4 linked regions of the Homo sapiens genome follow. Each later gene encodes a partner of the first gene's protein in a complex. Each region holds a gene or a part of one and is shown in the gene's direction. Other genes may lie near its edges. The genes, in order: CETN3, NUP205, RANBP2 and NUP188.

Region 1 (7,034 bases):
ACTTTTATAATAAGACAAGTTGCTCATGATAAAAAAGGTTAACATTTAAAATATGGATTTGATTTTTCTAATTTCAGGTTTATCTCGGGGTTTGGGGATCTCATTTGACATTTTATTGTCAGACTAAAAGTTGACAGTCACAGCTTTAATTCTCATCTAATATTTAGTTGATTTCACAAATGAATGCCTTTGTGATTATGCAGGTTTATTAAAATATATATGTTTTTAAACTGTAGTGACAGACTGGATATTGGAAAGAGATCCCCATGAAGAAATACTCAAGGCATTTAAACTATTTGATGATGATGATTCAGGTAAAATAAGCTTGAGGAATTTGCGACGTGTTGCTAGAGAATTGGGTGAAAACATGAGTGATGAAGAACTTCGAGCTATGATAGAAGAATTTGACAAAGATGGTGATGGAGAAAGTAAGTTTTAAGTGAAACGTATTTTCCAGGTTTTCCTGATGCTACACATGTAATACATTTTTCTAAAACCAAATGACTTGCAAGACTTTTTTGTAAACTTAACTGCTTCTTGTAATGGACCTTCTGTCTAAATAATTCACATATTCAATTTAGAATGAAGCAGATCTCTAAAACCAATTATACTTCAAGAAGGTCCTTCACTTTTCTCTGAAGGTGAAACCACCAAAATTTCAGCCTTTCAATATAATTTCAGTCTTTAATGGCTTCTCCCTCAACCTACATGCTAAGTTCTAAGTTCTATTGATTTTCCCCTTCAAATGTTTTGAATCTGTTTTTATCTTTGTCCATTGTGGCTGTCCTAGTTCAGGCCCTAATTTCTAGTTAGGAATGTTATAATGGCCTCATTTATTCTTGCCTTGGCTGCCTACTGGGTGCAGTGTCCTGCGTGTTGACTGGTGCTACACAATGAAAAAGGCAGATGTGGTTCTTGCTTTCACTTTGCAGTCTCTTGTAGTGTCCTAATTGCCCTTTCGGCATATAAAAGTCTCTAATCTCTTCTTCAGTCTCTTGGTATCATTCTTTTCCTAAAATATACATTTGATAATGCCATTTCTGTGTTTAGACACTTGAAACGATTCTTCAGTGCCTACAGAGTAAAGTTCAAAGCCTTCTATGATCTATCCCACCTTGAGTAACTGATTTTACTTTCCAGTGTATTCTTTCACTTTTCTTCTTTAACCCTCACCTCCTGTATGTACACATTTTGTCAACATATGCTATCCTGAAAACACATTTTTATGCTATTCGTTTCATCCTGCTGTTTCTTAATCTTAGAATGCTCTAATTGTTAATTTCTGCCTGCTAAAATGTGATTCATTCTCTCAGGTAAATATTAAACACCATCTTTTTCCCAAAAGCTTCCCATAACGCTCTATGAATCATGAGACTTCCATTGAAGGCCTATAGCATTTAGAGAAACAAATTGTTTTGATACTTTCATACACTTAATATGGAATCTTTTGGCTGGAAACTAAGTTTTGTTGAGATAAAAACCACTTTATTTGTATGTTAAACTGCTAAAGATTAGACCTTGCTGTCTTTTTTGTGGACTTTAGTGTTCTTCTCTCTTTGTGACTTTTTCATGCTTTTCAGTATCTAAGAGCAATGAAATTTTAAAAATATTGGGTATATAGAATAATAAACATGGTGAATGTGAAGTTAAAGGTAAATAAGATGTACTACAAGATAGACATAAAGCTGTGGTAATGATACAGAAAGAGTCACTTCCCCCTGCCCCCTCAACAGCATATATAAAATAAAACACAGCACATCTTTTGGAAAAAATGAAAGGAACGTTTTGAAAAGCCAGAATGGATAATCTTTTAAATAATGATGATGTTTTTTAACATTTATTTAGCAGCTACTATATTGGATATTAGCATTAATTATGTCACTTAATTTCCATAATAACTTGTAAAGTAGATATAGTATTATACCTATACATGTGTATAATAGATGCATATATAGAGATGAGGAAGCTAAAGCTTTGAGAGATTATTAATCTGCCCAGGTTATCACAAAGCTAATACTGTACATGGTAGAGCCAGAACTCAAAATCAAATCTCCAAAATGGCAAAGAATGTGCTTTTAAACGTAATATTGTATTGCCTTTCGGGCTATGAAGTAAAATATTAACTAGACTTCTATGTTTATGGAGTTTTAAAAATTACATGCTATTATAGGAAGCAGTGTATTAGCAACATACTCAGTTGGAACTTCCAATTCTAAGATTTGCTTTTCCCCTTCAAAGCCAGATGGTCTCTAAGGTACTTAATCTACTTAGTTCTGTAAAATTCTTATTGTTAGCAACTTGTAATAAGATTTGCTCTATGAAATGGTTGATGTATGAAAAATTTTGTTAAAGAAGGCAGTATAAAAGGAAACAAAGTGTCATATTTTCTTGATTCAATAAATGTTTTACCAAAGCTTATTTTAAGCTAGGCATTGTGGTAGATTTATTAGATATAGGAACTTGATATAAGATATTGTTAATAGAGAAGGTTATAAAATCAAATGCACAGAGATATAGAAGATTGTCTTTTAATTGTCTACAAGACAATTAAAGTAAAGTAGCTAGTTTAATTTCCTGAGCCACTTTCTAATTTTTACTTTCTTGGGTTTAAGTAGTGTGTTTTTAGGTATGAATCATGGAATTCAGTTGTCCCTTGATAAGCACAGGGGATTGGTTCCAAGTCGCTTAAGGATGCCAGAATCTATGGTGCTCAAGTCCCTTGTATAAAATGGCATAGTATTTTCATATAACTTTCACATATCCTCTTGTATACGTTAAATCATCTCTAGATTACTTATAATACCTAATACAATGTAAATGCTATGTAAATTGTTATACTTTATTTTATTTGTATTATTTTTTATTGTGTTATTTTCCCAAATATTTTTCATCTGCAGTTGGTTGAATCTGCAGATGTGAGGAACCTGTGGTTACAGAAGGCTGACCGTATTTTAAATACTTTTGAAATGCTATTATAGTTTAAAGTTTTTGTATATAAACAATATAAAAATTAAGTGTTTTGTGGTTTTCAAACTTATATATGAAACTTAAAATTTGCAGTTTGAGTATTGAAATTTTACAGATCAAGAAAAAGTTCTAGATCTTTAAGTAACAAGTACTTTTTGGATTTTGAATATTTTAATCATGGATGTATTACACTGTTAAAATGATTTGTAATCAAATCATTCTAAGGCTGTTTTATGTTTTTTCTCTTAATACAGTTCTTAAGAACATACTCTTGCTTCCTATTTGGTCTAGATGCCTCAGTCTAAATCGGGAGTTCTTCAGTGAAGGTGCACACTGGCTAAACTGATTAATAATTTTATATATTTGAACTGTATTTATTGGAAAGAGAGAGGGATCATAGCTTTCCTAAGATATTCAGACATGGCTATTTAACTGCAAAGGTTAAAGATCACTACATCAATTTGTAAGATTCTTGAAAGTAGTTTGGAGTATTACAGATTTTGTATTACGTTCTTACCATGTTTGTCATAGTGTTTTGTAGATGTTAAATACTGATTGCATGGCTTCATAGTTCCCTGTCAGCTTCTGGAGGGTGCATTTTTCCTAACTCATAGCTTATTTCTGTGAGGCATACACTATTCTTTCTTTGACTGTATTTCTGATGGTATTCTCCCACCCCAGCTCTCTTTCTACTTCCTTTCCAAATTCTGTATTTTTATTTTAGAGCCCAAGTAATGATTTACCTTTACCTAAATTTTTCTTATTAGTAATAATTTTTACCATTGTGAAGGATTTTTTTTCAACACTGATTTGGTCTTTGTTTTAATAATAAATAGTATTTTGTGTTATAAAACATTTGTTCTGTTTCAAGTATAAAAACTGACTAACATAGTTATCAAAACCGGTTTTCTATGTGGTTTCTAGAACCAGTGCAGTATATATTCTTTTCATTCCCTATGACCATGTTTTATCTCCTCAACATTTTTTAATTGGTTAATTTTTTCTAACTGTTCATTATGAATATTCTCAAACAGAAAAATTGTCAGACTAGTACAATGAACACCATTGTACCTTCTGCCTAGATTTAGTAATTAGTATTTTACCGCATTTGCTTTACCTGTCGTGTGTATATTTTTTTCTCAATCATTTGAAAATAAATTTCATATATCAAGAACTCAGTCTTTAGGCCAGGCACCATGGCCCATGCCTGTAATCCCAGCACTTTGGGAGGCTGAGGCAGGTGGATTGCTTGAGCCCAGGAGTTCAAGACCAGCCTTGGCAACATGGTGAAACCTAATCTCTACCAAAAATACAACGATTAGCCAGTCTCATAACCCGGTCTCTAAATTAATTAATTAATTAATTAAATTTTAATAATAAAACAAAAACTTGATCCTTTAATATTTTAGCATATCCATCTACTAAGAACAAGGATATATCTTTCATAAAGCTATGATACCAATGTTACACTTAAGAAAGTTAACAATAATTTTATAATATCATATAATATCTTTCTCATTTCGGTTTTAATGTATTCCAGAATAGGAAGCCTGGTGTCTGTTTTGATATATTACGCAACACTTATTGTGGTGTTGGCATTCACTAGCCACTTAAAAATGTTTGATTCAATGGAGTATTTTCATATAATACCTTCTATGGTAAATAAGAGTTAAACAATCTAAAACATCATCTCATAGTTCAGTGTTTTCAGATGAAGGAAATGAGATGCAGAGCTGTTCTGTGCAGAGCTGTGACTAGAGACCAGGTCTTAAGTCTCAGTGTAGTTTTCTTTTGGCATTATCAAAATTATCATTCATAATTTATGCATTGTTTAGGTATGTATTAAGTCTTAGGGCTAAATGCTAAATACTTACCAGAAGTATCTTCTGAACATTTTTCTTAATTGATACGTGCGCATATGTCGGGTTTTCAAAATTATATTCTATAAGATTATCTGATTTCTTATTTCTAGGTTGCTGTCTTAAACATTATGTTTTATAAATTGGAGATTCTTACTATATTTATAATTTTGGCAAACTAAAAATTAGTCCTTATCCATGATTATTTTCTGCCTTTACATCTATATAGTTACTGGATTACTTTGGTGATTAAGATTACATCTGTAATCTTTTCAAATTGCCATTTTTATTGATACCTTTGAGGTATGGTGACCTGGTTTTAATTATTCTTTAACATAGGCTTTTAAGTATATAAAAGTTCAAAAAATAATAATTTAACTTCTTTTTATAATTTTATTATATTTTCATTCTTTAGAAATCTAATTTACATGCATGATATGTTCAAGCTTACTTGTAAAGGAAGGATTTGCTAAATGAACTAGTAGAATAAAGATTATAAAGAGGGTTGTTTAAAGAACCTTGAAATGTCAAGCATTTAAAATGTTTTAGCAAGTATGTACAAATATGACTGTGATTGACTTTTTTGGTAACATTATCTTTTCCCCAGTTAATATTATAGAATACTAATTTGTAATGTTTATCACATTATATGTATTTTTGCATCCAAGAAGTTACATTTAATAAACATGTTCCACTTCCTAACAAAGAAGTAAAAGCAAAAAGCCATGTCTTAATGTAATAATTTTGCATAATGTAAAATTTTTTAAATACTTAGTGTAAAATGGTAGTCGTGGATTCTGAAAAAATAAAATGTTTATATTTCTGACTATTTCATTTTCTTTCTTACCACAGTAAACCAAGAGGAGTTCATTGCTATTATGACTGGTGACATTTAAAGAATTACAAGGATAAACACTAAGAATGTTGCAGTTACCATCTTATATTCTATTTTTGTGCCTGGAGCCATGTGAAAAAAACCAACTTAGTTCTTTTATCCTAAAGGACCAAAAATAAGCATCTTATATATCTGTATTTTACTACTGTTAAGTTTCTTTGTATGAACTGTGTTGTTAGTACTCAGATAGTTTAGCTTTGTATTTATAATAGAGCTTTTATATAAAGTTTTAAAAATTGAATGTGTGATATGTGTTCTTTGAAGGTTTTTTAATTTAACATTTATAGTCACTTTTTAGTGCACACATTTTCCAGACTTTCGTTAATAAAATATTTATTTTATTAGAATTTTAAAGTTTGGTAAATTTGTTTTTATTCCTAGTATCTGTTAACCCTCAAGAGTGGATTTCTTAAATCTTCCCTTTATAATTTTACTAGTTTCTGAAACAAAAATTGAAATACAATTAGCAATAGAGTGGCACATTTTTCCATTACCTAACATTTCATCAATTTTGACATTCTATATTTTAATACAAGCTGACTCAATATAAGCCTAATTCCTTTTTTAAGAGTCCTGTCTTTGAGTTTAGAAGGAATAAGTATTGTGCAGATAGACCCATTTATCCTTGTGTATTATGTTTCTTAACTTGGTATCATTGTAAGTATGAAAGTTAATTTTCTTCTGAATATTTCCTTAAACAAATTGAATGAATACAATTTGAATTTTCTAACTTCTTGACTGAGAGATTTAAATTTTGGAATTTTGATTTGTTAAGGTAATTATCACTCAATTACATGTCACAGTGATGAAAATAGAAAACTGTAAGCCACAGAAATAATTTAAGTCTATGTTTTACCTATATGAAGGAACAGTCTGTGATTCACCAGGAAATAGTAGAGACACAGTTTCCAAGTACTGGTGGGCTCTTCTGCCTTGTAGAAGTGTATGTTAGGGGGAAACAAGTGGTTATGGAGATCGATCATAGAAAAAAATAGTACCTATATGGATCCTTCACTCATATCTAGTACTCGGTGTTATGGGCTCTCCCAGGAACGGAATTGAGTTGTCTATTTCAGCAATCTTTCTTTAGAATTCTTGTTTTAAATTTTTAAGTTTAAAGTGTAGTATCATTTGAGGCGCTTTAAATGTTGTGAGCCTTTTAAGAGTATTACATTAAGGGTTGTCCACTAGAAATTTAACACAAAATCAGTAGGGAATACTATAGCAGTAGTGACATTTCAAACAGTTATCTAGGAAGCAAGTGTATATTAAGTCATTCTTGTATTGCTACGAAGAAATACCCAAGACTGCAT
Region 2 (4,371 bases), on another chromosome or scaffold:
CTGGTGTTGATAAAATCTCCACTGCTCAGAAATATGTTCTAGCAAGACGGCGCTTGGTGAAGGTGATCAACAATCGAGCTAAACTGCTTTCCCTTTGTTCTTGTATCCTTTATGAAATCATGCACTTGAATGATGACCTTGAAATATAGGAACTGTTCACTTATTCTCATATTATTTGGGCACCAAAACCAGGTGGAAGGAGATAAACTTAATTTTTTCCCAGTAAATGCCTAATGTATTTCCAAATCATAGTTTTTGTTCTTATCTTTTAGAGTAGCTGGTAATACTGATAAAATACATGGGCACTTTCTGTTAGGGAAGAAGGTAGGGACATGAGACTGCTGGCACAGGACCCCAAGGTCCCCACCTCTTTCCTCAGCACACCTTGCTGCTTCCTCTTGAGGAGCCTTCAGTGAGACCCTGTCTGTTAGACTGAGGCTGTGGGTACCTCATTAAGTGAGTGCAGTCTGTCCTTTTTTCTTCTCCTCCGAAACTGGTGTGTAAAACATATTTGATGAGATTATGTTCCTTTAATCTGAGCTCTGGTATAGTTATCATAGAGACCTGCCTATTTATTCTTTGGCGCCATCTGGAGTACTACTTGTTACATTGCATGCCCACGGATTCTCAAGATTCCTTATTTGCCTCGAGAACCTTGTTTAAAAGCAGAAGACTGCAAGGTAAACTTTCTGCTAAAAATTAATGAACCATAAATACCTATTTGTGCCTTGAAAAGCTAGTACCAGTTTTTTTTTATTTTTGTTTCCAGATTACTTAGAGTGAATTGGGTGAATCAAGAGCTGTTTAGTCACTAGACGTAGCTATTTCTTGCATTTTACTTTCTGTTCACGGGACATTGTGCTGAGCATAAGAATATTCTAGAGCCTGCTCATCAGCTGTTCCTTAGCTTCTTGCTGCAGTTAGGGGGCTGATCCAGCTCTAGAAGAATGGAGGAGGTCTGCTATTATGCTGATTCTTATTGCTGGAGTGGGCCTCTGTGACTGATGGCCATATATTGGATCCCTTAGGTGGAAGGAAATAGAGAAAAGCTGAGAACCCTGGTCTGGACCAGTGAAATGCTTTCTAGGGGCTTCCATTTGCTAAAAGTTGAAAATTGAGTTCCCAATCTTGAGCCGTGTTTTTCATGGTGCTATTGTTATTATTCATTGTCATCAGGTTCCTCCACTGTGTGGTAGATAGGTACTTGCACAGCCGGTATGACTCTGTTTTTTTATCTCTAGATTCCTTCGCCTCAGAAACCAATCTAGATTTTAGAAGTGGGCTGGCTATAGTGAGCCAACATGATTTAGACCAGGTAAGGTTCTATTCTCATATTCTTTTATTTTTCTTCATTAAAGTAAAAGGGCTGGGTGTGATGGTACACATCTGTAATCCCAGCATTTTGGGAGGCCGAGACGGGAGGATTGCTTGAGCCCAGGAGTTTGAGAGCAGTCTGGGCAACATAGTGAGACCCCGTCTCTTAAAAAAAAAAATTGGCATACTGTGGTGGCATGCACCTGTAGTCACAGCTACCTGGGAGGCTGAGGTGGGAGAATCACCTGAGCCTGGGAGACTGAGGCTGCAGTGAGCTGTGATTGCACCACTGCACTCCAGCCTGGGCAACAGAGCAAGACCTTGTCTCCAATAAATGAATGAAAGAGTGAAGCAAGACCTTGTCTCCAATAAATAAATAAATAAATGAATGAATGTAAGTAAGTAAGTAAAAAGGAAAGCCTGGTATGTTAATAAGATTATGATTTTCAGGGTTGCTTACAGACACCTGGTTTGAACTCTAGCTTGACCATTTTAACAGCTATATGACTTTGAACAACTTACTTAACTTCCGAGCCTCAATTGCTTCATCTAAGAAATAGGAGGATTCAACCTCAGAGGGTTTTGTCAGAATTAAGTGAGGTTTCATGTATGTGAGGCTGCTAGTGTTGTACCTAGAACATGGTAAGCATTCCGTGATTGGTAGGCATTATGATCTGGAAACTCCTGATGTCTTTTGATTAGCTTTGTAGAACTTTTTAGGTACAAAGTATCACTCAGCACTTATTTTTCAGGAAATAATTTAATGGTGAGATTGAGAGCAGCCAATACAAATCCCGCCGTCATAGACCATAGTACACAACACTGTGCTCTTACTAACCTGTTGATCAGTAGTGTTAGAATGAATGAAGAGTATGCCAAAAACAATTACAATGAAAACCTCATATTAAACTAATAGCAAAGTTATGTTTCTAACAAAGCAGGTATCAGGGTGTGTGATGTTAGGGAAAATGAATTACAGCTAGATCCTCTGCTAGCCATCTGAATGTCCTTAGCCATGATTTGATAAAGCCTCTGCTCCTCCCAAATCCCTCTTTTTGCTATTTTTCTTAAAACAAGGTTGGGAATGAAAGGTGCAGTTACAGCAGCCTCCAAAGCACAGCTTGCTGGATATCATGAATACCACGCTCCCATCCCAATCCAGACTACATTCGCCCCTTAGTGACTTTATAAAAGGAATTCGTTTTGTGGCTAGGCTTGTTTAGGAGAACTAGTGTTAATTGAGGCCATGTGCAAAATTAGCCAAAGAAGATTATTCAGAAGTTTGTTTGTTTGTTTGTTTTGTCTGAGAGACAAGGTCTCACTCCATTACCCAGGCTGGCATGCAGTGGTGTGACCACAGTTCACTGCAGCCTCAACCCCCTGGGCTCAAGTGATTCTCCCGCCTCAGCATCCTGAGTAGCTAGGACAACAAAAATAAATATATTTTGAAGTAATAACTGTTACTATTTCATTTAGACTGCTTTGTGAAAAAGCTAGAAAAAAATGCAGGATTAATAAATAATCTCACACTCTGTGTTGTGATTTTAATGCAAAACTGAAAACAGGTAGATTGATCTAATATTGTACTTAATTTTAGTCTTTTAGTATAACATCAAAAAGATCCATCTGAAACTACATATGCATTCTAGAATATATATGAATTCTAAAGCATATAACAGGTGTATCCCCACATTAATATTTTTTGAAAACAAAAGCATGCAAGTGGGTTTTTAAAAATTGCAAAATGAAGTAAAAAGTAAAAGCTTCTTTCCCACCTACCCTCCTGTCCTCCCTCCCTCCCTTCCTTCCCTGCATTCTCCTTCCCTCCCTCCCCCGCCAGTCTTACTGACTTCTTGTATGGCCCTTCAGGAAATGTTTTTGTGTGTATGTTAGTATATCAGCATCAGCATCAACATTCATTGCTATTTAAAGCAGGTTTTTAAATTTATACAAGAAAAGAAAGCAGGAAAAACATGAGAATTAAACCAAAAAATTCTAAGGTAGAAAATGTGAATGTTTAGTTAATTTAGTAACACATTACAAAAATTCAAAAGTATTTACATTGAAAGAACCACATTACAAAAATTCTAAAGTGTTTTAAATTGGAAGACTTAGAATAAAAGAAATATTTGAGACAACAATTTTAACAAAATGTCTTTTGTGTCACCGCTAGCTTCAGGCTGATGCAATCAACGCTTTTGGAGAATCACTACAAAAGAAACTTCTGGACATTGAAGGATTATATTCAAAAGTTCGATCTCGATATAGTTTCATACAGGCTCTTGTCAGACGTATCCGTGGCCTCTTGAGGATATCAAGGAACTGAGAGCCCGTGCTTATGCTCTTCTATGAGAGAGATGAATTGGGGAGAATTGTCTCCATTTTATAGATTAGTTTCTTTCTAAATTATGACCAAAAATATTTTGCTATTTCTTTCTTTGTATATGGACATCTTTTCTGTAAACTTCTTCCCCTAGTTCCATCCTCACTAGTAAAAAATAAATACTTTTTAAAAAAACAAAACAAATGTATGGTTAATCTTTTGATCTTTTATCTTTTGATCAGCATTATCAGGAATCTAACAAATAAACCTTCAACAGTGGTGATTTTCCCATAGAGATATTATTCTGAATGCCAGATTAAAGGCATAGTCTGAAAATTCTAATTTTTTCACCCTTTGTAGCTACATTACACTATTAACAATATTCAGGGTTACTAAAATATAGCCATGCTCTTATAGAATAGTGTACTCAATACTGTGAAAATGTCTGAAAAAGTCAAGCTTTTTCCTAAAATTATTTAGGTTTTCCTTTTTTTTGTTTTTTTCTTTTCTGCACGTAAGTTGACAATACAATTGTCCCTTGGTATCTGGTGATTACTGGTTCTAGGGCTCCCACGGATACCAAAACCTATGTTTTGGCATGCATGTTCCTTATATAAAATGGCATTGTGTTTGCATATAATATAGATACATCTTCTTGTATACTTTAAATCATTTCTAGATTACTTACAATACCTAATATAATATGAATTCTATATAAATAGTGGTTAATACTA
Region 3 (7,034 bases), on another chromosome or scaffold:
GTTTGGCAGAGGCTGGCCATCTGTGAACTGCCCATGCTTTCTAGAATGTCGGAGTTTTGGAGTGTGATGATGCGTCTGTATATCATATCTTTCTAGTCTTTCATTGTGCTTTCATTTGTTAGTCTTCTCTTGTTTTGCCATTTTTCTACTCCCTCACATGTGCTTTTGCCCTTAAAAATATTCTTCGTCTGTAATCTGAGCACTTTGGGAGGCCGAGAGACCAGCCTGACCAATATGGTGAAAATCCGTCTCTATTAAAAATACAAAAATGAGCCGGGCGTGGTGGCAGCGCCTGTAGTCCCACCTACTCGGTAGGCTGAGACAGGAGAATTGCTTGAACCCTGGAGGCAGAGGTTGTGGTGAGCAGAGATTGCACCACTGCACTCCAGCCTGTGTGACAGAGCGAGACTCTGTCTCCAAAAAAGAAAAAAAGAAAAAAAAATATAATTCTTTCTCTAGTTTTTCTTTTTCCAGATGGCTTCTGTTTAGTTTTTCTATGTTCTGTCAAGTTGATTTCTTATTCTGCAGCTGATTCCTACTTCTCAAAGTCTACTTGACAGCTCTTATTTTTATTTATTTGTTTTTTAGAATAGGGTCTTGCTGTGTTGCCCAGGCTGCCATCAAATTTTTGGGCGTAAATGATCCACCTACCTCTGTTTCCTGAGTACTTAGGACTACAGGCAGGCACCTTTGACAGCTGTTAGTTGTTTTTTCTGCCCTTTACAGCTATACTTCATACTTCTGAGTAACACACATATATACTTTTGTTATTTTTAATTTCCTTTCTCCCATTTTAGACATTTTCTTTTCTTTTTTTTTTTTTTGAGACGGAGACTCGCTCTATCGTCCAGGCTGGAGTGCAGTGGCGCGATCTCGGCTCACTGCAAACTCTGCCTCCCGGGTTCACACCATTCTCCTGCCCCAGCCTGTAGCTGGGACTACAGGCACCCGCCACCACACCCGGCTAATTTTTTAGTATTTTTAGTAGAGACGGGGTTTCACCGTGTTAGCCAGGATAGTCTCGATCTCCTGACCTCATGATCCGCCCGCCTCAGCCTCCCAAAGTGCCGGGGTTACAGGCGTGAGCCACCGCGCCGGGCCCCATTTTAGACATTCTGTACTGGTTATTATGCTCCTCCAAAACTGTCCTCAGACACTTTGGTTTGCCCCTCATTCTTTCAGTACTGTTATTGCAGTTTTTGTTTAAATGAATATTTAACATTTATATAAATATAAGGTAAATATTTTTGCATTTGAATTGCCCTTGTTGTGCGGTTTTGTTTTTCCTGGACTGAATAATTGCTTTATTTTTTGGTTTGCTTGTATGTTGTGTTACTACTTGCTTACTTAAACTCAGCAATTTACACCCTCAAATGTGGTCAAACTGGTCACATAATCCCATCAATTGCAGCTTAAAACATTGATTGATTGATTGATTGATTGATTGTCTGTCTACCTGGAATACCCTTACTAACTGACTTCTCCAACCAGGATTGGTTTTTCTTCCTCTTTGCTACACAGCTGTGCTCTTGGGACTTCCCTTTATCATCAGTTTGAGAATTCCTTTCATCTTTTTTCTGAGTTAGACCCTTTGTTTCTTGTATCTCATGTCCTCTTCATTTACTTTCTTTGTTTTGGTGTAGCATAGTCTCACTTGCTTTGAGGAAAAGTAGATGAGAGGTTTTTTTGTTTGTTTGTTTTTGTTTTGGGACAGAGTCTTGCTCTGTTGCCCAGGCTGGAGTGCAGTGGCATGGTCTCAGCTCACTGCAACTTCCGCCTCCCGGGTTCAAGCGATTCTCCTGCCTCAGCCTCCTGAGTAGTGGGATTACAGGTGTGTGCCACCATGCCCGGCTAATTTTTTCTATTTTTAGTAGAGATGGGATTTCACCATGTTGGTCAGGCTGGTCTTGAAACTAATGGTATGTCTTTAAAATGTCTTTACTTAATTTAGTTGATCATTTGGTTATCGAATTCTGAGTTTGAAATAATTTTTTTTTCGCAATTTTGAAAGCATTGCTCCATTTTCTAGAAGTTCTGTTGTTAGGAGTCCGATGAGATTCTTGTTCTTGGTAACTTAAAGGTTTTCTGGAAGTGTCCTTTCAATTGGGAAACTCATTTCTTTCAGTTCTGTAGCATTTCTTGTATTATTTCTTTGACCATTTCTTACCCTTTTTTTAATGACGTTTACCTGAAAGCTGGAGTTTCTCTAATTTTTCTCTTATTCTCCTCTTTTGTTTGTTCTGCCTTTTGAGAGATTTCCTTACCCTTATGTTCCAGGGGAAGAAGATTGGGGAACTCATGGTTCAGTATCTAGACTTTTCCTCATTGTCCTGTATAATCGCGGCCTTCACCCTTGTTGGGACTCCACAGATTTGGAGCTGATCAGATGGGTTTGTTGAGAACAGCTGATCAGATGGGTTTTTGGAGGATTTTAGGGGGAGGGAGATTCATTTGACTGTGCAAGATGGGCGACAGAGTGAGACTCCATCTGAATTAAAAAAAAAATTTAGAACTGCATAGTGAAAAAGTAGGCCACAAATATTAAGTTTTGGACAATTACAATTACATCTCTATCTTACTGTGCAAGATAGAGATGATGTGGCATCTCTTAGGGTCTTACTGTTCCTGTTTTCAGCCCTGCATCAGTTCTTGATATTTGGCAGCTTAAGTGAATTCAGGTATTTGCTTATAGTGACATCTGCTGTCATGTAAAGAAGTACTGCTTGCATCAGATATTGTCCTGTTTACATAACATGGGCTGTGCTCCTTCCTAGCTGTGTATCTTTAAACAAGGCATTTACCTGCTTGAGCTTCAGTTCCCTTGTAAAGTGAGCAGGTTAGAGGCAAAAGATCATATAGAAGAATAATTTGTAAAGTTGTTTAATTATCTTAAGATTGTCTACTTTAATAACATAGTTGGAAGCAAAGAAGGTAATGGAATTATTTTTCTATTATGTTTTGGCATTGTACCTTGAATCTATTTCTTCATTTTGAAAAGGGGGAACTGGCTGGGCTCAATGGCTGACGCCTGTAATCCCAGCACTTTGGGAGGTGGAGGAAGTCAGATCACAAGGTCAAGAGATCGAGACCATCTTGGCCAACATGGTGAAACCCCATCTCTACTAAAAATACAAAAATTAGCTGGGCATGGTGGCGTGCGCCTGTAGTCCCAGCTTGTACCCGGGAGGCAGAGGTTGCAGTGAGCTGAGATCGAGCCACTGCACTGCAGCCTGGCGACAGAGCAAGACTCCATCTCAAAAAAAAAAAGGAAGGGGGGAACAAGCCTTGTTCCTTTACGTGCTGTCCTGACTGCTGTGTATTATTTTTGTTAAGATTGCTGTAGTTCTTTTTTTTTTTGAGACGGAGGCTTGCTCTGTCGCCAGTGCTGGGATTGCAGGTGTTAGCCTGGCATTGAGCAACGTTTTGTAATTTAAGCATACAAGTCTCTCACCTCCTTGTTTACATTTATTCCCAGGCATTTTTTTCTTTTAGATGCGATTGTAAATGGAATTGCTTTCTTAATTTCCTTTTCTGATTGTTCGTTGCTGGTACAGTAGTCCCTTCTTATCCACAGTATTGCCTTACGTGGTTTTACTTAGCTGTGTCACCCGTGGTCCAAAAATATTGAATGGAAGATTATATAAATAAACATTTCATGAGTTTTAAATTGCAAACGGTTCTGAATAACATGGTAAAAATCTCACGGCCTCCTGCTCCGTCCTACCTAGGACACAAGTCATCCCTTTGTCCGACATATTCATGCTGTATGTGCTCGCCACCCGCTAGTTACATACTAGTCATCTCAGTTATCAGATCAGTTGTTGGAGTATTGCAGTGCTTGTGTTCAAGTAACCTTTATTTTATTTAAAATGGCACCAAAGAGCAAGAGTAGCGATGCTGGCAGTTCACATATGCAGAGAGAAGCCATATAGTGCTTCCTTTAAGTGAAGAGGTGAGTTTTTTTGTTTTTTTTTTTTTTTGGCTTAAACAACAGAAATTTATTTTCTCATGGTTCTGGAGGCTAGAAGCGGCAGATCAGGGTGCTGCTGCTTTGGTTCCTGATGAGGGCTTTCTTCCTGGCTTATAGGTTGGCTGGCATCTTGTCCTCACATGGCAGAGGGAGAGTACTGTAGTCTCACCTTGCTTTTTATTATTATTATTTTTTTAATTTATTTTTTTATTGATAATTCTTGGGTGTTTCTCACAGAGGGGGATTTGGCAGGGTCATGGGACAATAGTGGAGGGAAGGTCAGCAGATAAACAAGTGAACAAAGGTCTCTGGTTTTCCTAGGCAGAGGACCCTGCAGCCTTCCGCAGTGTTTGTGTCCCTGATTACTTGAGATTAGGGAGTGGTGATGACTCTTAACGAGCATGCTGCCTTCAAGCATCTGTTTAACAAAGCACATCTTGCACCGCCCTTAATCCATTTAACCCTGGGTGGACACAGCACATGTTTCAGAGAGCACAGGGTTGGGGGTAAGGTCACAGATCAACAAGATCCCAAGGCAGAAGAATTTTTCTTAGTGCAGAACAAAATGAAAAGTCTCCCATGTCTACTTCTTTCTACACAGACACGGCAACCATCCGATTTCTCAATCTTTTCCCCACCTTTCCCGCCTTTCTATTCCACAAAACCGCCATTGTCATCATGGCCCGTTCTCAATGAGCTGTTGAGTACACCTCCCAGACGGGGTGGTGGCCGGGCAGAGGGGCTCCTCACTTCCCAGTAGGGGCGGCCGGGCAGAGGCGCCCCTCAGAAGAGGTGAGTTTTTGACTTAGGAAAGAAAAAAGATCATATACTGGAGTTGCTAAGATCTATGGTAAGAACAAATCTTTTGTCCATGAAATTGTGAAGAAGGAAAAAGAAATTTGTGCTAGTTTTGTTGTGACACCCCAAACTGCAAAAGTTACAGCCATAGTGTGTGATAAGTGCTTAGTTGAGATGGACAAGACATTAAATTTGTGGGTGGAGGACACAAACAGGAAACATGTTTCGATTGACGGCAACCTGGTTTGATACTATTCATCGTTTTGGACATTCACTGGGGTCTTGGAATTTCAAAAATAAGATGTTTGAGTAGCTGTATACTCTTTATCACATGGATGGAACATACTCTGGTTGTATCAGCATTTTTTTTTTTTTTTTTTTTGAGATGGAATCATTCTGTTGCCCACGCTGGAGTGCAGTGGTGCGATCTTGGCCCACTGCAGCCTCTGCCTCCCGGATTCAAGCGATTCTTTGCCTCAGCCTCCCAAGCAGTGGGGATTACAGGGGTGTGCCACCATGCCCAGCTAATTTTTGTATTTTTAGTAGAAAGGAGGTTTCTGCATGTTGGCCAGGCTGGTCTCGAACTCTTGGCTTCAGGTGATCCGCCCGCCTCGGTCTCCGAAAGTGCTGGGATTACAGGTGTGAGCCACCGCACCCAGCCTGGTGTGCATCAGCATTTTGGACTTTGGAGTTTATGTAACCAAGGAGCCAGGCTGTGGACCTCGTTTATTACTTGAAGAATTCAATATTTATTTCTGCCTTTTTGACTCCTTGACTGTAAAATACTGATCTGATCTGTAGAGAGAACAGTACATGGACCAGGGAATCCTCAGTGCCTTAATAGATCCTAAGTACTTACTTATTCTTTCCCATAGAGGCTTACACATGGTAGGAAAAGAGATTTCTGGAATACCTTTCCTCCCCAAAGAAAGCTGGTTTCTTTTGTTTGTTAAGTGAGAGAGTGGTACCACAGGGTTTCCAAGATTTCCAAGGCTGATGAAAATTCTTCTGTTGTCTGCTTGTCTTACTTTCTTGAATTTATTTTTTGTATGTTATGTATTTATTATTTAGAGAGAGGATCTCCCTGTGTCACCCACGCTGGAGTGCAGTGTCACAGTCATAACTCACGGCAGTGTCAACCTCCTGGGCTCAAGTGATTCTCCTTCCTTGGCCTCCTGAGTAGCTAGGAACACAGGCATGCTCCACTATGCCTGGCTATTTTTTTCTCCCTGGAGACAGGATCTTGTTGTGTTGCACAGGCTGGTTTCAAACTCTTGGCCTCAAAGCTAGCCTCCCACCTTGGTCTCTGAAAGTGCTAGAATTAAAGGTGTGACCAACTGCACCCAGCTTATTTATGATGATGATGATGATGATGATGATGATGATGATGATGATGATGTTTGGGAGATGGAGTCTCGCTCTGTCGCCCAGGCTGGAGTGCAATGGCACGATCTCAGCTCACTGCAACCTCTGGCTCACTGCAACCTCCACCTCCTGGGTTCAACTGATTCTCGTGCCTTAGCCTCCCGAGTAGCTGGGGTTACAGGCACCCACCATCATGCCTGGCTAATTTTTGTATTTTTGTCAAGACGGGGTTTCACCATGTTAGCCAGGCTGGTCTCAAACTCCTGACCTCAGGTGATCCGCCCACTTCGGCCTCCCAAAGTGCTGGGATTACAGGCATGAGCCGCTGCACCCAGCTCTATTTTTTGTTTTGTGATAGGAAATTATAAAACATGGAATTATGCATTTGTCAGCCTTTAAAAAAACTTTTAAGTGAATGAAAGTGGCGTATTTGAACATCAACTTAGGACAGATTTTTACTACTTTTGAAAAAATGTTGGAAAATATTTCTGTATGAAAAGTAAAACAACTTTTAATTTTTTTTAGAAGTCAATGAAAGGATTCTATTTTGCAAAGCTGTATTATGAAGCTAAAGAATATGATCTTGCTAAAAAGTAAGTACAAACTGTAACATGTATTTTTTTTTTAAAATCAATGCCTTTTCTCATTTTCTTCTTTGAAATAGGTAAAAATATGTTCTTAGTAGTTCTTCCTAAGTGTATTCTGGAATAAGGGATTTATCACTCAGACTGATGCTAAGGACCAGCCTAGATTCCATTGAGATTGAAACCGTAATTAGTGTTTTCTGCATGCTGCTGCTTTATACCAAGGGCAAGAAATTGTTTGGCTTCAAATACTTTTTCTAAAAATTGTCTTCTGTTGGAGTAAAAGAGGACCATGCCTATATCTTAATTTGTTTTTG
Region 4 (7,034 bases), on another chromosome or scaffold:
TGCACTCTTCGACCAGACCCGCCACAGTCTGGCATTAGGCAGTGCCACAGAGGACAAGGACAGCATGGAGACTGACGACTGTTCTCGGTCCCGGCACAGGGACCAGCGTGATGGGGTGAGACAGTGCCCTAGAAGGCCATCCGTCCTTTCCACTGCCCGCCAGCTCTGTGCCTGACTCTGGGGATAAGTAGTGATCAAGACAGATAGTCGCTGCACTTCTGGAGTTCACGGCCTGGTGGGAAAGGTTAATAGATCAGACACTGCAGAAAAGCAGAAGCAGCCCATTGTACTGCAGGAGAGAAGTGCAGGGAGAACTTAGTCTCACTTCTGACTTGAACTGGGACTTAGGTGCCTTTTCAGCAATGACTTAGAGATTGTAGCCGCGGGCAAATGCAGGATCCGAAGTGAAATAGGAAATGATGTAAGGCTTTTAAGCAGGGGAAAAAGTTGATCTGATTTTTACTCTAGAAAGATCACTCTGGACTTAAACTCCAGGCCTCAAGCCATCCTCCCAGTTCAGCCTTCCAAAGTGTTGGGATTACAGGCGTGCCCAAGAAAGATCACTCTGGATGCAGTATTGAATAGTATTTTTCAAATTGTGGGATCATGACCTATTAGAGAGAGTCTTGAAATTAGCACATTTTGTTACAACCAGTCTCGCTCTGTCGCCCAGGGTGGAGTGCAGTGGTGCGATCTTGGCTCACTGCAAGCTCTGCTTCCCAGATTCACGCCATTCTCCCACCTCAGCCACCCGAGTAGCTGGGGCTACAGGTGTCTGCCACCACGCCCGGCTAACTTTTTGTATTTTTCATAGAGACGGGGTTTCACTGTGTTAGCCAGGATGGCCTCGATCTCCTGACCTCGTAATCCGCCCGCCTTGATCTCCCAAAGTGCTGGGATTACAGGCGTGAGCCACCACGCCTGGCCACAACCAGCATTTTTTTAAAATAAAGTAGAATAAAGTGTTTAAGAAAATATCACTGTGCTTTGTGTGACATTAGGGTAGGTATTATTAGTGAAAAACTGTAAACGTGTACATGAGGATACAGTCTAAAAAGTCTTTATGGGCCGGGCACGGTGGCTAACGCCTGTAATCCCAGCACTTTGGGAGGCCGAGGCGGGCAGATCATGAGGTCAGGAGATGGAGACCATCCTGGCTAACACGGTGAAACCCTGTCTCTATGAAAAATACAAAAAATTAGCCGGGCGTGGTGGCGGGCACCTGTAGTCCCAGCTACTCGGGAGGCTGAGGCAGGAGGATGGCGTGAACCCAGGAGCGGAGGTTGCAGTGAGCCGAGATCGCGCCGCTGCACTCCAGCCTGGGGGACAGAGCGAGGCTCCATCTCAAAAAAAATGTCTTTATGACTCTGGGTCATGGCCAAAAAGAAGGTTGAAAGGCCACTGGTACAAGGATAGATTAGAGAGGATGGAGCAGGATTATTTAGGAGATGGTTGCAGTAGCAGAGCAGGAGGTGGCATCGGGCAGGGTCGTAGGGGTCCCTCAGACTCCATGTGGCAGAGTTGGTTGGAGTGTCCAACATGAGACGAGGTGGCTCTGACAAGGGTGGTGGCAGTGTGGGAGGTGGGAGGGAAGAGGCGGGGGTAGCTCTGGTCAGTTTAGGGTTGCTCATTAGATTGGCTGGAGTTGCTGCTGTTCATTGAGAGCTGGACATAGGAGAGGGGCAGGGTGGGAGAGAGTGTGCATTCTGTGTTACTCAAGCTCACTTAGCAATGTGTGTAACCAAGCAGGTCTTGGGCAACCAGGCCCACCGCTGCCTGTCGTCCTCTTCCTCCTCCTCTTCTTCTTCCCCCTTTTACTCATCTTTGCCTCTGGGCAGGTGTGTGTCCTGGGCCTGCACCTGGCCAAGGAGCTGTGTGAGGTAGACGAGGATGGTGACTCCTGGCTGCAGGTAACCCGCAGGCTCCCCATCCTACCCACCCTCCTCACCACTCTAGAGGTGAGCCTTCGCATGAAGCAGAACCTGCATTTCACTGAGGCCACATTGCATCTGCTCCTCACCCTGGCTCGCACTCAGCAGGTAGGAGGCCAGCCCGAAGGCAGGAGGGAGCGTCCTTGCTTGCCTGGGTGGGTTCTGACAATCCCAGAAGCTGTGATCTAGCCTGAGAGCCCTACCTACCCTAGGCAGGGCAGGGGCAGGCTCCATCTCATTTCCTGTCTTTCCCTCCTCCCAGGGAGCCACAGCAGTGGCTGGAGCTGGCATCACCCAGAGCATTTGTTTGCCCCTTCTGAGTGTGTACCAGCTGAGCACCAACGGCACAGCACAGGTGAGTGTCAGGAGCTTGCCAGGAGGCCCAGCCTGACCACCCTACAGTTCCAGTTGAAAAGTGTCCTCCCCTACCTTTCCCCGGAAGTTGCTTTCCTCTAAATTGCCTAATACACTGATGGTGAGGAATCTTCCCTGCCCCCAGGCGGATCTCTAGCAAGAGAAACTCACCACTAAAAGGCACCGCCTGGCCTTTGTGCACTACCTCTGGGAGATGGGATGGATTCTTCCCATTGCAGGTGTGAGGAAGACTAAACCAGATTGATAACACATCCCTGGACCAGGCCTCTAGCCAAGGCAGCTGTCCTCTCCTGTCATTCCCAAAGACAGTGTGTCATTGTGACTTCTCCACCCCTGCACCACCAGACCAGGACTGGGAGAAGGGAAGTGGGTGGTCTGGGGGCTTGATGGGGCCTCAGCACCCTGCCCTCTGTGTCCCTTGGTTATTTCTAGTTTAACAGATACCTCCTAATTTCAAAAGAGTAGTCTTCACCTGAACCTCTCTCTCTCATGAGAGTCGTGAAGTATTTGGTCATCTAGCCCAGCTACCCCTTAGAGGAAGTATGTAGGGGCCAGAGCAGGGCAGTGACATGTCCAGGTTCGCATAGCTCGTCAGTGGCAGACCTGAGTCTGGAACCCTGGGTCTTGTGTCTCAGCCTGGTGCTCTTTCCTTGAATCTGCTGGTGTTGGCCCCTTTCTGGCCCTGGTGGCCAGACAGTGGCTGTGTCTATTCTGGGAGATCTTTTCCTTTCAGCGCAGCTGGGCTGCCTTAGTTGCTGTACTACAAGGAGGTCCTGCCTCTCAGCAGGGTTCCTGAGCTTGTCTGCTGTTTGTATCTTAGACACCTAGTGCCTCTCGGAAGTCCCTGGATGCCCCCTCTTGGCCAGGAGTCTACCGCCTGTCCATGTCCCTGATGGAGCAGCTGCTCAAAACTCTGCGCTACAACTTCCTGCCTGAGGCCCTGGACTTCGTGGGTGTCCACCAGGAGCGGACCTTACAGGTGAGGGGCTGCCTGCATTGCAGGGGTGGGAGTTTCAGGGTAAAAAAGGTACTGGGCCATTCATGGGGCAGGTGGGTGTGGAGCCTGGGCCTCAGTAGCGGAGGGTTGTCGATGCCTTCATTTTTGAGATGCTCTAAGTACTCTGCTGGCTCACTGGCCAGCTAGTCTGCTGAAGGACGGGAACGGTCTCGGGTCAGAATCCTGGTTGTACCACTAAGCCATTTCTTTGCCAACTCAGCATTTGGGGGCCTGGGACGTTGCCTCTCCACAGGAGGGTAGGTGTGGGTATGTCAGGTCCCTCAGCCATCCCCATCTTTCCCTGATGTGTGCTTTCCTCCCAGTGCCTCAACGCAGTGAGGACAGTGCAGAGTCTGGCCTGCCTGGAGGAGGCGGACCACACCGTGGGTTTTATTCTGCAGCTCTCTAACTTCATGAAGGAGTGGCACTTCCACCTGCCTCAGCTCATGCGTGATATCCAGGTGGGGGCCCAAGATGGTGTCTTGGAGTCTGGGGTAATGCTTGGAGACAGGGAGGCTGTGAGGTCTCACTGGGGCACTCCTAGTGAATTGCAGGATGTTCCTGAACGGGGGCTTTTCCCTTGGGGAGCACAGGGTTTGCTGTCATGTGCTTACTCTGGCTAAATGTTTCCTTCCATAGTCAAGGGCAGCCATGTAGGTTAAGAATTTGGACTTTTATCAGTTAGATCTTGGTTCAGATCCCTTAAGAATACACTTGGGGCCGGGCATGGTGGCTCACGCCTGTAATCCTAGCACTTTGGGAGGCAGTCAGGAGTTCGAGATCAGCCTGGCCAACATGGTGAAACCCTGTCTCTACTAAAAATACAAAAATTAGCTGGGCGTGGTGGCACGTGACTGTAATCCCAGCTACTCGGGAGGCTGAGTTGGGAGAATCGCTTGAACCTGGGAGGCGGAGGTTGCAGTGAGCTAGGATCGAACCATTACACTCCAGCCTGGGTGACAGAGCGAGACTCCGTCCCAAAAAGAAAAAAAAAAAAAAATGGCCGGGTGCAATAGGCTCACGCCTGTAATCCCAGCACTTTGGGAATTCAAGGCGGGAGGATCATGAGGTCAGGAGCTCGAGACCAGGCTGGCCAACATGGTGAAACCCCATCTCTACTAAAAATAACAAAAATTAGCTGGGTGTGGTGGCACACGCCTGTAGTCCCAGCTACTCAGGATCGGGAGGCTGAGGCAGGAGAATCGCTTGAACTCAGGAGGTGGAGGTTGCAGTGAGCCGAGGTCACGCCACTGCACTCCAGCCTGGTGACAAAGTGAGACTCCGTCTCAAAAAAAAAAAAAAAAAACTAAACTAAACAAAACCAAAAAAACACACACAACTGGAGCTGGGAACCAGCTGGAGAAGGGAGGGGTGAGGAAGGAACACAGGCTCCAGAGCCAGGCAGGCTTCTCTTATCTGCTGGTTGTATGACCTTGGCCAAGTCACTTGTTACTTGTAACCTTTTATTCTTTTCCTATAAAATGGAATCAGCCATAATCCTCATCTTATTTTATTTATTTATTTATTTTGAGACAGAGTTTTGCTCTGTCGCCCAGGCTGGAGTGCAGTGGTGCCATCTCGGCTCACTGCAAGCTCCGCCTCCCGGGTTCACGCCATTCTCCTGCCTCAGCCTCCCGAGTAGCTGGGACTACAGGCGCCCGCCACCACGCCCGGCTAATTTTTTGTATTTTTAGTAGAGACAGGGTTTCACCGTGTTAGCCAGGATGGTCTCGATCTGCTGACCTCGTGATGCGCCTGCCTCGACCTCAAAAGTGCTGGGATTACAGGCATGAGCCACCGCACCCGGCCTCATCTTCTTTACTTTAGGACCTTACAATATACCAGGCACCTAGCTGGGTCTCAGGGAGACAGTCCAGTCCTGAGCCCTGCTGGCCCAAGTTTGTAGCCCTGAGTACTTAGTGGCTATAGGGGCTTTAAGCTGGAAAGTGGCCAGGGGAGCATGAGGGAAGGAGGGAGAGAAGGGGAGCATGAGGGAAGGAGGGAGAGAAGGGGAGCATGAGGGAAGGAGGGAGAGAAGAGCAGCAGCGAGTGAGGAGCGCATGGGTGTTACATGGAGGGCTATTGGGTTGGTCTGGTTGGGTGACTGGGCTGCTGACAAGAGAATCCGCTCATCTCTCCTGTGTCTCTCCCAGGTCAACCTGGGTTACTTGTGCCAGGCATGTACCTCTCTCCTGCACAGTCGAAAGATGCTGCAGCATTACTTACAGGTAAGCGTCCTATGCCATGAGGTCCTGGAATACCTCACGCTAGCTTCCCAAGCTCCACCTTCATTTCTTGACTCTCCTTAGAACAAAAATGGGGATGGCCTCCCCTCAGCTGTTGCCCAGCGAGTCCAGAGGCCACCGTCTGCTGCTTCTGCTGCCCCCTCCTCCTCAAAGCAGCCCGCTGCTGACACAGAGGCATCAGAGCAGCAGGCCTTGCACACAGTCCAGTATGGCCTTCTCAAGATCCTCAGCAAGACGCTGGCAGCCCTGCGCCACTTCACCCCAGATGTCTGCCAGATTCTGCTGGATCAGGTACTGCCCATCATCTGTTCAGCACCACCTCCCCTAAAGGCTCTGCTCTGCTGTGTACCGAGAGCTACCTGGGGCCTTAATTGGGTCCTGGATGGCTCTTGTCTTTTCTCGCAGTCCCTGGACCTTGCTGAATACAACTTCCTGTTTGCCCTGAGCTTTACCACTCCCACCTTTGACTCCGAAGTGGCCCCCTCCTTCGGGACCCTTCTGGCCACAGTGAATGTGGCCCTCAACATGCTTGGAGAGGTAAGTTGGTTCTGTCAGACACTGTCCTCTCCCCCCGGCTCCTCCCCCTGCCTGCCACTTCCCAGCTGACCTTGGGCATGTTGGGCATGGTACCTAGCCTCCCAAGCCTGCTCCTCTCTGTAAACTGAACATGACAGCACCTCTGAGAATTACTGTGAGGATTAAATGAGGTAACTGATTAAATTTGCTTAGTGCAGGACATGCAAGTAGGAAGCTCTCAGTAAGTGGGAGCTGTTCCTGTTGTCTTAGTTTTTTACCCTTGCTTCTCTTCAGCTGGACAAGAAAAAGGAGCCCCTCACCCAGGCAGTGGGGCTCAGCACACAGGCAGAAGGGACCAGGACGTTAAAGTAAGTGCTCTTTCTGGGATTTGATAAGGGGCTGGGGCAGTCATGGGCCCACTGTTCTCAAGCTTGGCCAGCCTGGCCCTCTGCAGCAGTACCAAAAACCTGTGTCTCCTCCCAGGTCCCTCCTGATGTTTACCATGGAAAACTGCTTCTACCTGCTCATCTCTCAGGCGATGCGGTACCTTAGGGACCCGGCTGTGCACCCCCGGGACAAACAGCGGATGAAGCAGGAGCTCAGCTCTGAGTTGGTACGGATGGATAGGGATACGGAGGGCTGGACCAATAGGGCCAGAGCCCTGTGGGGTCCTGCCTGGCAACCCCCAAGGGTCAGAACAGTAGCCAGATGTGCTGAGCCTCACCAAGCCACTTTTTTTCTTGTAGAGCACGCTGCTGTCCAGCCTCTCGCGCTACTTCCGCCGGGGAGCCCCCAGCTCCCCTGCCACTGGTGTCCTCCCCTCGCCGCAGGGCAAGTCCACCTCTCTCTCCAAAGCCAGCCCTGAGAGTCAGGAGCCTCTGATCCAGTTGGTGCAGGCGTTTGTCCGGCATATGCAAAGATAGGGCAGTGCTGTTCTGCCCACCTACCCCTCTCCACCAGCCTACACTG

The links.
Region 2: CETN3 (region 1) and NUP205 share a complex: the UniProt entries of both Homo sapiens proteins name them as parts of the nuclear pore complex.
Region 3: CETN3 (region 1) and RANBP2 share a complex: the UniProt entries of both Homo sapiens proteins name them as parts of the nuclear pore complex.
Region 4: CETN3 (region 1) and NUP188 share a complex: the UniProt entries of both Homo sapiens proteins name them as parts of the nuclear pore complex.

What each region holds. Positions count from the first base shown.
Region 1 is NC_000005.10:90,392,752-90,399,785, reverse strand, and holds part of CETN3 (centrin-3), read left to right. Parts: intron 1-236; coding exon 237-428; intron 429-3,221; coding exon of another isoform or gene 3,222-3,293; intron 3,294-5,678; coding exon 5,679-5,722; 3' UTR 5,723-7,034. UniProt on the Homo sapiens protein: Plays a fundamental role in microtubule-organizing center structure and function. As a component of the TREX-2 complex, involved in the export of mRNAs to the cytoplasm through the nuclear pores.
Region 2 is NC_000007.14:135,644,917-135,649,287, forward strand, and holds the end of NUP205 (nuclear pore complex protein Nup205), read left to right. Parts: coding exon 1-102; intron 103-551; coding exon 552-680; intron 681-1,241; coding exon 1,242-1,315; intron 1,316-3,487; coding exon 3,488-3,640; 3' UTR 3,641-3,837; downstream 3,838-4,371. UniProt on the Homo sapiens protein: Plays a role in the nuclear pore complex (NPC) assembly and/or maintenance. May anchor NUP62 and other nucleoporins, but not NUP153 and TPR, to the NPC.
Region 3 is NC_000002.12:108,722,474-108,729,507, forward strand, and holds part of RANBP2 (E3 SUMO-protein ligase RanBP2), read left to right. Parts: intron 1-6,658; coding exon 6,659-6,726; intron 6,727-7,034. UniProt on the Homo sapiens protein: E3 SUMO-protein ligase which facilitates SUMO1 and SUMO2 conjugation by UBE2I. Involved in transport factor (Ran-GTP, karyopherin)-mediated protein import via the F-G repeat-containing domain which acts as a docking site for substrates.
Region 4 is NC_000009.12:128,999,691-129,006,724, forward strand, and holds part of NUP188 (nucleoporin NUP188), read left to right. Parts: coding exon 1-115; intron 116-1,838; coding exon 1,839-2,039; intron 2,040-2,193; coding exon 2,194-2,286; intron 2,287-3,126; coding exon 3,127-3,285; intron 3,286-3,626; coding exon 3,627-3,764; intron 3,765-5,456; coding exon 5,457-5,531; exon of another isoform or gene 5,532-5,607; intron 5,608-5,612; coding exon 5,613-5,840; intron 5,841-5,954; coding exon 5,955-6,086; intron 6,087-6,359; coding exon 6,360-6,433; intron 6,434-6,548; coding exon 6,549-6,678; intron 6,679-6,789; exon of another isoform or gene 6,790-6,811; coding exon 6,812-6,988; 3' UTR 6,989-7,034. UniProt on the Homo sapiens protein: Component of the nuclear pore complex (NPC), a complex required for the trafficking across the nuclear envelope. Required for proper protein transport into the nucleus.